3 linked regions of the Homo sapiens genome follow. The protein of the gene in region 1 interacts with the protein of each later gene in a pairwise test. Each region holds a gene or a part of one and is shown in the gene's direction. Other genes may lie near its edges.

The links.
Region 2: the proteins of SLC14A1 (region 1) and TMIE interact in a two-hybrid assay, tested with the Homo sapiens proteins (one large-scale study listed by BioGRID).
Region 3: the proteins of SLC14A1 (region 1) and C1GALT1 interact in a two-hybrid assay, tested with the Homo sapiens proteins (one large-scale study listed by BioGRID).

What each region holds. Positions count from the first base shown.
Region 1 is NC_000018.10:45,730,561-45,734,208, forward strand, and holds part of SLC14A1 (urea transporter 1), read left to right. Parts: intron 1-454; coding exon 455-644; intron 645-3,648. UniProt on the Homo sapiens protein: Mediates the transport of urea driven by a concentration gradient across the cell membrane of erythrocytes.
Region 2 is NC_000003.12:46,699,834-46,704,273, forward strand, and holds the start of TMIE (transmembrane inner ear expressed protein isoform 1 precursor), read left to right. Parts: upstream 1-1,558; 5' UTR 1,559-1,654; coding exon 1,655-1,747; intron 1,748-4,440. UniProt on the Homo sapiens protein: Auxiliary subunit of the mechanotransducer (MET) non-specific cation channel complex located at the tips of stereocilia of cochlear hair cells and that mediates sensory transduction in the auditory system.
Region 3 is NC_000007.14:7,234,469-7,238,116, forward strand, and holds part of C1GALT1 (glycoprotein-N-acetylgalactosamine 3-beta-galactosyltransferase 1), read left to right. Parts: coding exon 1-71; intron 72-93; exon of another isoform or gene 94-1,911; intron 1,912-1,917; exon of another isoform or gene 1,918-3,163; intron 3,164-3,648. UniProt on the Homo sapiens protein: Glycosyltransferase that generates the core 1 O-glycan Gal-beta1-3GalNAc-alpha1-Ser/Thr (T antigen), which is a precursor for many extended O-glycans in glycoproteins.

The sequences.
Region 1 (3,648 bases):
TTCTCCAACTTTTTATAGATCTCTTTACTCACCATTTTTCTACTTTTATCTTTTAACCTGCAAACCTCTCCATTTTTTTTTCTTATGGAGACAGTAGCCAGGGCCCAGCTCATATTAGAAGGCACCTGGCTTCATCCTGTAGTTTCAGTACTTAAAACTTAAATTTATTCCTTTGGCTTCAGAATTTGTACCTATAAGCATGAAAATAAGTGCATTAGATGCTTTCAGGAGCTTAGATTCTAGGAGGGGCAGTGTGGGTTGAGCATACAGTAGATAGAGGCTTTCAGGGATCTGGGTGCCACTAATGCAACAATGGGTTGAGAGAGAAATATTAAAGAAATATCAAAAATGTTTCACTTCCAGGAGGTTTTGCTGATTTTGCTCAGGGTGGGCCTGTGGTTGAAGAGTATCACTTGGCAGCTTCCTTAGCTCTGCTTTACCTCATCCCTTCCAGACAAACCCGTGGTGCTCCAGTTCATTGACTGGATTCTCCGGGGCATATCCCAAGTGGTGTTCGTCAACAACCCCGTCAGTGGAATCCTGATTCTGGTAGGACTTCTTGTTCAGAACCCCTGGTGGGCTCTCACTGGCTGGCTGGGAACAGTGGTCTCCACTCTGATGGCCCTCTTGCTCAGCCAGGACAGGTAGGTGTACCCTTTCAAGCCTTCTCAGCTCCCTTCTGAGACACAGGGGCTGACCAGTTACTGTGGGCAACAGTGATAAAACCACATCCTTCCCAGGATAAACAACATTTAGTCCACAGAACTGTTTATATTTGTTTTTAGTCAGAGGTCAGGGAATCAGTTACAGTCTCTTGCTCTTGATATCTGAATAAATGGCTGGTCTAAATGATGCCAGATTCTTGTGGCATTACGTGCTAACCAGAACTAAGCTACAAGTATTTCCCTGGAGAGGTTCTGAAGGGATCTTCTTTAATGATTGATAAAATTATTTGTCGTCAGCATTCTATTTGGGAAAAAGTGCATATGAATTCAGAAAAAGTTTTAGTGGCTTAATAACCCCCGTTATATCTTGTTGCTATGATGAGTTTAGGAAACTCATTCTTCATAGACAGTGCAAAGGTCAGCTCAGCTCCTGGAGAAAAGAATAACCATGAATTCCAATTGAGTGGATTCTGACTTAAGAAGCCTTAGTGAGTCTTCTGATATATTGATTAGATTAAAAATAGCACACACTTTATAAATTGATCTGTCATTGAAGAAGTGATGAGCTGACTCTCACCAGGGCAGTAGATAGCTCCCCACTAGCCAGTTCCTTTAGGGAGGGAACCAGTATTCCAGGTGTCTGAGATCAACGCATAATCCCAATCCCCAGTGTGGTCATTACACAACTAAGCTCTTGTAACACTGGCTGCAAATTGCCTAAAGAGGTCCGTGGGGAGAGAGTTAGCAAATGCTCCACTTTTCTATCAATTTCAAGGAGTCTGATTTGCTCCCTGTAGAAGGGGATTTTATAGCTTAGGTTAAACTCTATTCCAATGCATGCCAAGAAAAGGTCTCCTCAGTTTGGGGATGGAGTCTATAATTGTGCCATACTGAATATTCCTTTATGATTTTGCTCTGATGAAACATGATCAACTCATTTTTTGTCAGATATTATTTAGAAGACAAGTCATTTATATGTGTTAGTTTCAAATGTTTTACTTTCCTTGGTCTGAAAAGACTGCATTAAAATGGAAATTCTCTGTTTTAAGTAAATATATGTCTTCCTGTGGCTTTAACTATGGCATTCCACAATTTGTAGATGTTGCCATTAATTTTCCACTGATCAAACTCAAGCATTAACATCTCCAAGTCAGTTGTTGAGAGGACAAGTCTGCATGGCTCTCTACTGTCATGTGTAGTCCCAGTCTCTGAGTTGTACCTTTGCAAATTGTATCACCTCCCATTTGCCCTCAAGGATTATTTAAGGGAAACAAAGAACTTTTGAATAGGGAACCCCACATTTAATGTTCATCTGGATTAATGTACGTGACATCATCTTGCCTGTTGCAATGGTGCCTCCTGGCCCAGTTAGAAACAAGCCAAGAAGCAGCTGTCACACTATCCCTTACCAGCCCCTGCAGTGTGGCTCACTGGCTATAGCACCTCCTGCTCGAGCCCAGCATTAGGCCTCACCTACTCACTTCACCATCTTTACTCCCCCATCCCCCTACAGACATCATCCTTGAGTGACAGGCCCTTGGGAAGTGGATCCTGTGCCTTTCACGGTGCCAGACGTTGCCAACTCTCAGAGCTGTGGGAATCCTGCCTTGTCAGGTCAATCAATCTAGGTGCCCATCAATGGTGGATTATATAAAGAATATGTGGTGCATATACAACACGAACTACTACATAGCCATAAAAAGGATTGAAATCAAGTCCTTTGCAGCAGCATGGATGTATCTGGAGACCAATATCCTAAGTGAATTAATGTAGTAACAGAAAATCAAATACCACACGTTTTCACTTACAATTAGGAGCTAAACACTGGGTAAACACGGACATGGAAATAGTAGACAACTGGGACTCCAAAAGAGGAGAGGAAGGGAAACAAGTGTTGAAAACCTACCTATCAGGTACTTTGTTCACTATTTGGGTGACGAGTTCAATAGAAGCCCAAACCTCAGTCAGCATCATGCAATACATCTATGTAACAAACCTGCACATGTACCCCCTCAATCTAAAGAAGGAGAAGAAGACGGGGAAGAAATGAGATTGAATACTAAGCAAAAAGTAACCTCAGAAAGAACTGGGTGCTCAACATGCACATAATTAAATGGGATACTTCTCCAAGTAAGAGAAAAGCAATTGTTCTTCTTTGCAATAACTTTGAAATGTGCGTTTGGAGACAACAAAATAGAAGCATCAGGACACAAAAATGTATACTAACCTGGAAGATTAATGTTGATAAGATCAAAGACACTGTGAAAGTGAATTTACATTTCAGGAATCTTATATCTCTCACCAAGAAATCAAACTTAAGCAACAGTTTCATATGCTAAAAGCGCTCTTCAAGTCAGAGGCTCTTGATTTAAAAGAATAACTTTCCAAAGGAAAGGCTAAAAGAAAACAGAGCAGATTGCCTTACTAAACTCCCCTTTCCTCTCAGCCACTGTAGACCTGTCTTTAGCCGTGACACCTGTAGAGGGAGTCATTCTCTATCAGGGGTCCCCAACCCCTGCACTGGAGACAGGTACCTGTCTGTGGCCTGTTGGGAACTGGGCCGCACAGCAGGAGGTGAGCGGTGGGCGAGTGAGCATTTCCACCTGAGCTCCGCCTCCTGTCAGATCAGCAGAAGCATTAGCTTCTCATAAGAGTGCGAACCCCATTATGAACTGGGCATGTGAGGGATCTAGGTTGCTTGCTCCTTATGAGAATCTAATGCCTGATAATCTGAGGTGGAACAGTTTCATCCCGAAATCATCCCCCATTCCCCATCCATGGAAAATTGTCTTCCATGAAACCTGTCCCTGGGGCCAAAAAGGCTGGGGACCACTGATCTAAATGCACATTTATATTTTTATCTATGTATATTTCACTTCATGTCTTTATTAGTTTTTGTACGATGCTTACGTAGACTTTGAAATACATTTCCAAATATAATCTCATTTTTTAATATGAATATGATCTGGAAGTTACTAGTGTT
Region 2 (4,440 bases), on another chromosome or scaffold:
AGCACTCCCATATTCATTAATTCATATCATCCTCACATCAATCATGGGAGTCTCACCCTCCCCATGCCATGGATAAGAAACAGAAACAGAGGAGTAATGCTTTGCTCAGTGCATTACTGACAGGCTCACTTAGTCCTCACCCTGTCCAGCCTCCCTGACCCCATGTCCCGAGGGTGACCTCCCTGACTGGTCAGTGTGGCTTTCCCTAGCCTGGCCTGTGACCAGCAGCATGAGGAAGTGGGGATTGGAGTGCTGCAACAAGTGATTTGGATTTTAGCAGAGTTCCTGTTTGCCTGGCCAGGGCATGCCTGGGGAGGACTGGGTGGCCCAGCCCACTCAGTCCCCAGACTTTACCTCCCACTGTTGAGCGTTTCCTCGATGGGTCTCCTGGGCTGCAGTCCTTCTCCAACAGCTCTCGTTTTCCTGCCTGGCTGTCATCTCCGGGCCCTGACACTGGCAGGTGACCGCAGGTGGCCCTCCGCTCCCTGCTGCAGCCTGCTGTGGTCCTTGCCCATTCATGGCATGTCCAGGCCAGAACCTCACAGGGCTCTGGAGCCACAGGGTCTCCCTGGTTCTCAGGGCAGGCCTTGCTGGGCCATCCCCAGCCTGCGCAGGCCTTCACCAGTGCCCCTGGTGATAAGGGTTCCAGGGGCCCAACACCTGGGCTGCTTCTCCTAACACTCAGCAGCAGGAGATAAATAAGAATAGAAGGAAGGAAGAAAAGGAGGGAAGGGGAGTCTACCAACTCCAGGCCTCCCCACTCCTCTTCCTAAGTCTTCAGCCCCCACCCAGGTCTCTACATCTCCTCAGAACCTCCCTCTGTCCCTCAGTTGTCAAGGCTCAACATGGGGTCAGGGCCAGAGTGCAGTGTGGGTCAACTTCAGCATGAGGTCAGGGTCCTGGCTTAGACTGAAGTCAGAGTCAGTGTTCAGGCTGGGGCAGAGATTGAGGGCAGCCAGGGTCAGAAAATGGTCCTCCAGCCCTTCCAGGGACAGCCCACTTCTGTCCTGTGGGGCTGAAGATGCTGGCTTCTTCTGGAACCCTCCATAACACTGCCGGCTGGCAGCTCTGACCATACCATCCCCTGCTCTCCAGCTCTGGTGTCCAGGGTGACCAGAGCCGCCTCTGGGCAGGAAGCCAAGCCAGAAAGCCCAGGACATCCCTGAGCGCCTGTCACCATGGCAACCTGCCCGCTCTGCCCCCCCCCCAAACTCAAATCCAGTATATTTTTCAAATCCAGCATGACAGAATGGGAAGGGCCTCCTAGATCAGCAGATTCCAGTCCCACCCCCTTGTCCCAGATGGAGAAACTGAGGCCCATTTGCAGAAGGGAGGGGGACCTGTTGATTAGGGACCTGGCCCCAGCCTGTCCTCCCTCCCGCCCACCCCCACCTCAGTGTCCCTGGGGATGCGGAAGGTGGGGGCAGGGAGGGGGAGCCTGCGGCCCGATCTCCCGGGAAGGAGGGGGCGGGCCCTCCACCGCAGCGATGGCGGGGGCGGGCGGCGCGGGAACCTGACACCGAGGATGAATAAATGATGCTCGCTGACTACCCGTGGCCAAAGCCCGTGGCCACCGAGCGCCGGCTGGCAGGGGCAGTGACCGGCGGCCGGCCCGTTCGTCCCTGGGCTCCGCAAGCGGCGCGGTGGCACGAAGATGGCGGGGTGGCCGGGCGCGGGTCCCCTCTGCGTGCTGGGCGGCGCCGCACTCGGGGTGTGCCTCGCGGGGGTTGCCGGGCAGCTGGTGGAGGTGAGGCCGCGGCACGGAGGGACTGGGGAGGCTGTCACCCTCCAGGCAGGGGGCTGGGGGAGAGGGGACGCCTTTTTGATCCGGAGCTTGTTTGATCCCTTACTCTTGCCCTGAGAGATCCAGTCTCCCGGGCGATGCAGCCCTGCCCCAAGCCCTGCCAGGCTGTGAGAGAGACTCAGCCCCACTCTTAGGGTCCCTGGTCTGATGGAAGGGCACAGTACCCGATTTCTGGAACATTAGTCTGACGGGGGAGACTCACCTTGACCTTAGGGATTCCCAGCCTGACTTGGGGACACAGCCCTGCCCAGACTGATGGGGGATACTGGGCCCCCATCCTCCAGCCTTTGGTCTCACTGGCAGGGAGGTGCACAGCCCTGGGTTTCCTGGACCTCTAGTCTGATGGAACAGACCCTGAATTTAGGGTCTTCTGGAGGCAACAGCCTCTATCTCCAGAGATGTTCCAGGGACCCCTGTCTAATGGAGGGGGAGACATAGCCTTAAGATGGAGACGAGGGCATTCCAAGTTGGAGGGTGGGGGCAGCAGGATGAGGAGACCCTTTACAGAGAAGCTATGTGGAGCACTAGGTCCAGAGGGGCAGGCAGGGCAGGACCTAGGGACTGGGAAGTCTGACTTGGTCCTGGTGATAACCGGGAGCTTTAGAAGGTTTCTGCTCAGGGACAAGTCATGATGAGTTCTGGTTTGGAAGGAGGGTAAATTGGGAGCAGGCACACAGTGGGAGAGGTGGGAGGAGCTGCTGAGATAGCACAGAAGCTGGGGGAGAGCCCTGGTGGAGAGCCTGGCTGGGGCCAGGAAGGGTGGGGCCATCTGTAGCCTCCCTAACCCCCTTGTACCCCACTCCTGCGGAGCCTGAAAGGGGAGCCAACGAGGGAGCTGGCAGACCAGACCTAGAGTTCTGAATTGTGAGGCCAGAGGGAGAAGGCCCAGGAGCCAGGGCCAGGGAGGAGCAGGGGATGGAGGCTGTGCAGGCAGGGGCGGACCAGAGGGAGCAGGAAAACAGAAATGCAAGAGGCAGTGAGAGGTGCCCAGGGAAGTCCTGAGGGGTGGGGGCTTGGGGACAGTGTGGGATAGAGAGGACAGAGCCATGGGGAAGTTGTTATGGGGGGACACAGCCCTGAACTGGAGGGTTTGATGGGGACATAGGGACAGAGCCCTGGACCCAGATGTAGCCTGTCCCTGCTGTTGCCCAGAGGGCATGACCACAAGGCTGGGCTAGAGTCAGGTGTCAGCTCCAGTGTCCCTGTAAGGGGAGCTATGCTGGCTTGAGCCCTGTGAGGCGTACTTGGGCCCCTCACAGGCTGCCCTGAGGCCTGGGTACAGAAACTGAGCTGGCCTAGGTGCAGACAGAAAGCTGGGGGTGGGGGTTAAGTCAGTTCTCAGCCAAGGACTCTTCTCCCTCACCCCCAGGAACTCATCTTTTCCCAGTTCTAGGGAAATTGCATTTGGAGGCCATCTGCCTGACATCTGCCTACAGTCTGAGCAAGGCCTTAGCTCTTCCCTCACGGAAGCACCAAAGACATGGGCAGGGCTGGGGGCCATGTCACCACCCACCTTAGCCCTGTGTGGGTCACCATCACCCTCCATCAGCCCGTGAGGCTCTGAAGGAGGTGGGGACCTCCATGCTCCAGAAATCAGACCCCAGCAGGGCCCAACATGAGGAGAAGACCAGCTGTCATCTGCTGCCGTCCACCCAAGACCCCTATCAGTAAGAGTAGGCCCAGCTCCACCCACATCAGGGCTGGGGCAAGAATGTGTAGGAAGTGAGCTGCCTTGGCTCAGAACCTGAGAACTTTGCCATGGCCCTCAGAGTCTTCCAGTCATACAACCAGCCGGGCCAACACATTGAGCCTTAGAATTAGGGCAGCTGCCACCATCAGGGCCCTAACCCTAATGGCACAGACATGTCCCTGACCACACCCACATGCATGCCAACCACACATGTGCCCAACCTCACACATGTTCCCCAACTTTATGTACATGTCTGACCCCACACATATATCCAGGGGAAAGTACTGAGGAATGGTGTCTTCTTGTCAATAGCTCACCCTGGCAGGGAGAAAAGAGCCTGAGAATCAGGTACCAATCCCAGCCCACAGATCCTCTGGGTTACCTGGGACAGGTTGCTGATCCTCTCTTGAGTTCTGCAACCCACGCTGAAGGGTGGCATTCACTAGATGAAGAAGCGCCTGGCTCATGACAGATGCCTAATCCATGTTTACGGACCTGGGGGAAGAAGGGCTGGATGGTCGAACTACAGGTTGCCTTTCTTCTCAGAGAACCAGAAGGGACTTCTCGTGTCTGTCCTTATTTAGTAATCAGTGCACAACATCTCGCTCATATGCCCCAGGGTTCTCTCTCCCTCAGAGGACAGACCCCTCTCCCTGTCCCTCAGCCACACTAAGTGACAGACATGGGGTCATATCCATCTCTGGTCAGGGACAGATCTTACTCAAATTCTACAGTGTGGGTCCATGTCCCTTCAGACCTAGGCAGGACTGTGTCCCCTAGACACCCAGGGTAGAGCTGTGTCCTCTAGACACCCAGGGCAGGACCGTGTCCCCTAGACACCCAGGGTGGACCATGTCCCTAGACACCCAGGGTGAAGCATATCCCCTAGACACCCAGGGCGGACCATGTCCCTAGACACCCAGGGTGGACCATGTCCCCTAGACAC
Region 3 (3,648 bases), on another chromosome or scaffold:
TTCAGATGATAATGGACAGAATCATCTAGAAGGACAAATGAACTTCAATGCAGATTCTAGCCAACATAAAGGTATGGTTTACTTTATTAAGCAGTAAACATAAGCAGTATTTTAGTCTAAATTTTGTCATATTCCTGTCTGTATCTGTTAATTAAAATGGGCTATATATTCCAGATATTAAAAATAATTCTTGGTTTGCCTCAAGAGAAGGGAATTGCTAAAACTCAGATTTATTTAGGGAATAAGATATTAATTTTGAATTCGTTTTTAAGTAGAAATAGTTCAGAACCCATGATTTGGGGAAGGGCATAACTATTCAGATTTGATTTGTTTCTGAAAATGTTTTTCTAGGTTCAGTTTTGTTATATGTGTGTCTTTGGTTTTTGTTACTTGTTTTGGTCATAGCTTTTGCTTAAGTCTTGTTTTCCTAGAGAAACTTGAGGTGTATGTAAGTTTCGATTTATATTTTTATAATTAGTTAATAGAACTAATCTTTTTTTTCCTCAAGAGGCACAAAGAACAAGGAAGTTAAAAACCAAGGATGCGTTCTAAAGACTTCATTTTCTCCTAGCCTCCTACCTCTAACCAGATTTTCTCAGTTGAGTTATTTATGTGTCCCTTAAGTGTTGGTTCTCTCCAAGTTTCTGTCCTTTAGCTGTTTGTCTGTGTGACATCATTAACCCGCATAATTTTAATTTCCTTCTATTTCTTACTGTCTTTAGCCCAGTTCCAGACATTGTGAGGTGACATTAACACAATGCAAAATACGGTTTGACAGAAAATAATATAAGTAGCTTGAAAACAATTGGAATTCTGGGATGCAGAGGGTCCACTATTCAGTTTTTTCTCTTCTCTTCTCAGTAGTAAATTATTTCTTCACCACCTCTCAAGCAGAGGTTGAATGGTGAGATTTCAAAGCCTGGTTCCATTTTATCAACTAGCAAACATAAACATACTATTACAAAGTATGTCGTGTTTTGTGATTGTTTATGTAACAGTAATTCAGCTCTGAGCAAGTGCTCTGTGTTCCTACAGAACAGTTTGGTCACTGTGTATTTGCTCTGTAGCATAGCCACATGTCTTTAGGTGATCAATTGGAGGCAGAGTTCCCTACTAATAGTAAGCCGTACGAGGCCTCACTGCAGGCATGTGTATTAGATACATACTTGTCCAGCTCAGTGGCCTACAAAATGTGGGGTATGCTAAAAGTTTGTCTACTCCCTTCAGACTCAGCATGTGTAAATTGAGTCTCCTTTTCCTTCCTACTCCTAGAAGTTGCTCTTCCTCCTCTATTCTTTCTTTTATATGGCTCATTACCATCTGTCTGTGCCAGAAATTAAGAAATCATGGTAGGTGCTTGCCTTCACATGCTAGCCAATTCGATTTGTCAGTACATTCTAACAGTGCTGCTACTTTACCATTTTTCATCTCTTTTCCTCTCAGTCCTCAGTGCATTTCCGATTCAGGCCTTCAGCTATACCCATGTACCTGCACTCAACCAAACTTCACCATTCCTTTTGGTGAACTTATAACCTATTTTCTGTATTATGTCTTTATTTTTTAATCTTCCTCTTTGTTCTACCTAGGTCCCTATCTACTGCTCTGTAGGATTTATTAGCCACTATTTTCCTTCAGCACATTGAATCCTTTGTTCATACCTCTATAATAACATCTCTTAGTATTTAGCAATTATTGGTTTGTGTGTCAGGCTCAGGCTCCCTGAATGGACTGAATTCCTCTGCAGCAGGAAATGTGTCTTACTCATTTTTTTCATCTCCTATGCCAGCCCATGCCCAGTACAAAGCAATTAGTGAATGAAAAATTATTTATCAAGTTCAGCGGTGGACAAACCTGTCTTACCTGAATGAAACAGATTGGGGATTCCTGCATTCACTGTTCTATCCATTCAAGGTTTGGTATATTTGTATAGCCAAGAGATTGGGCTCCTCAAGGATATGAGATGTCTATGCTTTCTGACTGAAAGTAGGGTGATTTTGTCTGCTGTTGTCCTTTTGGATTGTGAATCTTGATACTCAGAGGGACATGAGAATTTTTATTTTTTATTTTTTTTGAGATGGAGTCTCGCTCTGTCACCCAGGCTGGACTGCAGTGGTGGGATCTCGGCTCACTGCAACCTCCGCCTCCCGGGTTCAAGCAATTCTCCTGCCTTAGCCTCCCGAGTAGCTGGGATTACAGGCGCCCACCACTACGCTTGGCTAATTTTTTGTATCTTTTTTAGTAGAGACAGGGTTTCACCATGTTGGCCAGGCTGGTCTCGAACTCCTGACCTCGTGATCTACCCGCCTCAGCCTCCCAAAGTGCTGGGATTACAGGCCTGAGCCACTGTGCCCAGCTGGGACATGAGAATATTTTTATGTTCCACCCAGCTTTTCCCATTATTCCCTCTCAGTTGGTTAACTAGTATATTATATGCCTCCATTGTTAATTTCTCATAGGACTAAGCTTCTGTAACTTGCTGTTTGACCTTAATTTTAAGCATATGCTTCGTCAGGATACTGCCCAGAACATTGCTACTGAAAGTCAGTTCATAGACTCATTCTGGTCCTATAACTAAAGAATGTCTGCTTATTTGGGAGTAAGCAGAAACTTTTATTGTAATTGGAGTAATTTTGTCTGAAGCTAAAAATAAAAATTTAGGACTTGTTTTATATTTTAGTTTTATTTTTCTTATAATTCATTTTTATCCTATTTACACAGTGTAGACCTCTTTTAGAAATAAAAATTGGCCTTTCACCACAGATAGCTTGGGAAGTACTCATCTAGAATCTCATCATTGAGCTCTTCCTCTGTACCGGTGCTACTCAAAATGCGGTCCTGGCCTGACACTTTGTCAGCTGTTTGTCTGCACAAGATAATGAGGTTACACTAGGATGTAAATCAGTTTTACGCTCACTGCTTACTTAAATGGACAGTTTTAAGTTTCAGTTTTAAGCTCACTGCTTAGTTAAGTGGACATTTTGATTGGTTGGTTCTGATAGTAGGCCTTTTTCAAAGTAATGTGTTGCTTTCTGTTCTGGTATAAGCTCCTTATTTCTTTGCAAACCTGTAGTTTAAAGAGCACTGCTCTAGACCATCTTGGAATTCCCATGTCTACCATTGTTCTCTTCTGTTTTTGATTGGTGGATTTACATTTTGGAATGAGGTATGTGACTATCAGAAAGTAATCTCAACTCCTGTGCTTTGACCTTTTACCACCTCAGGGTACTTGTAGAAATTCTTAATAGTGGATTATTGTGAACTTCAAAAATGAACTGCCACTTCAGCAGCATGTCTTTCCTGCTCTTCAGAAACTCGTTCAGAGCAGTGAGAAATTTCTGTCAGTAATCTATTAAAAACTGGCTGCTTTCTTTTATGAAGTGCCAAGCAGAGACTATTTAAGGCAGCATTTAGCATGCCTATGAAGCACCAGGAGAACTTATTAAAATGCTGATTCTGAGTCAGTAGGTCTGGGCCTAAGATTATGCATTTCTAACAGGCTCCCAGGTGATGCTGCTGCTTTTAATCAGTAAACTACAGTTTGAGACGAATTTAGATTATAATGTCAACTCTTACTAGCTCCAGTGATGTCCTAGATAACACTGACATGAAACCAATAAATCAGAGTGTCAGTTCACATTAGGATGAGTT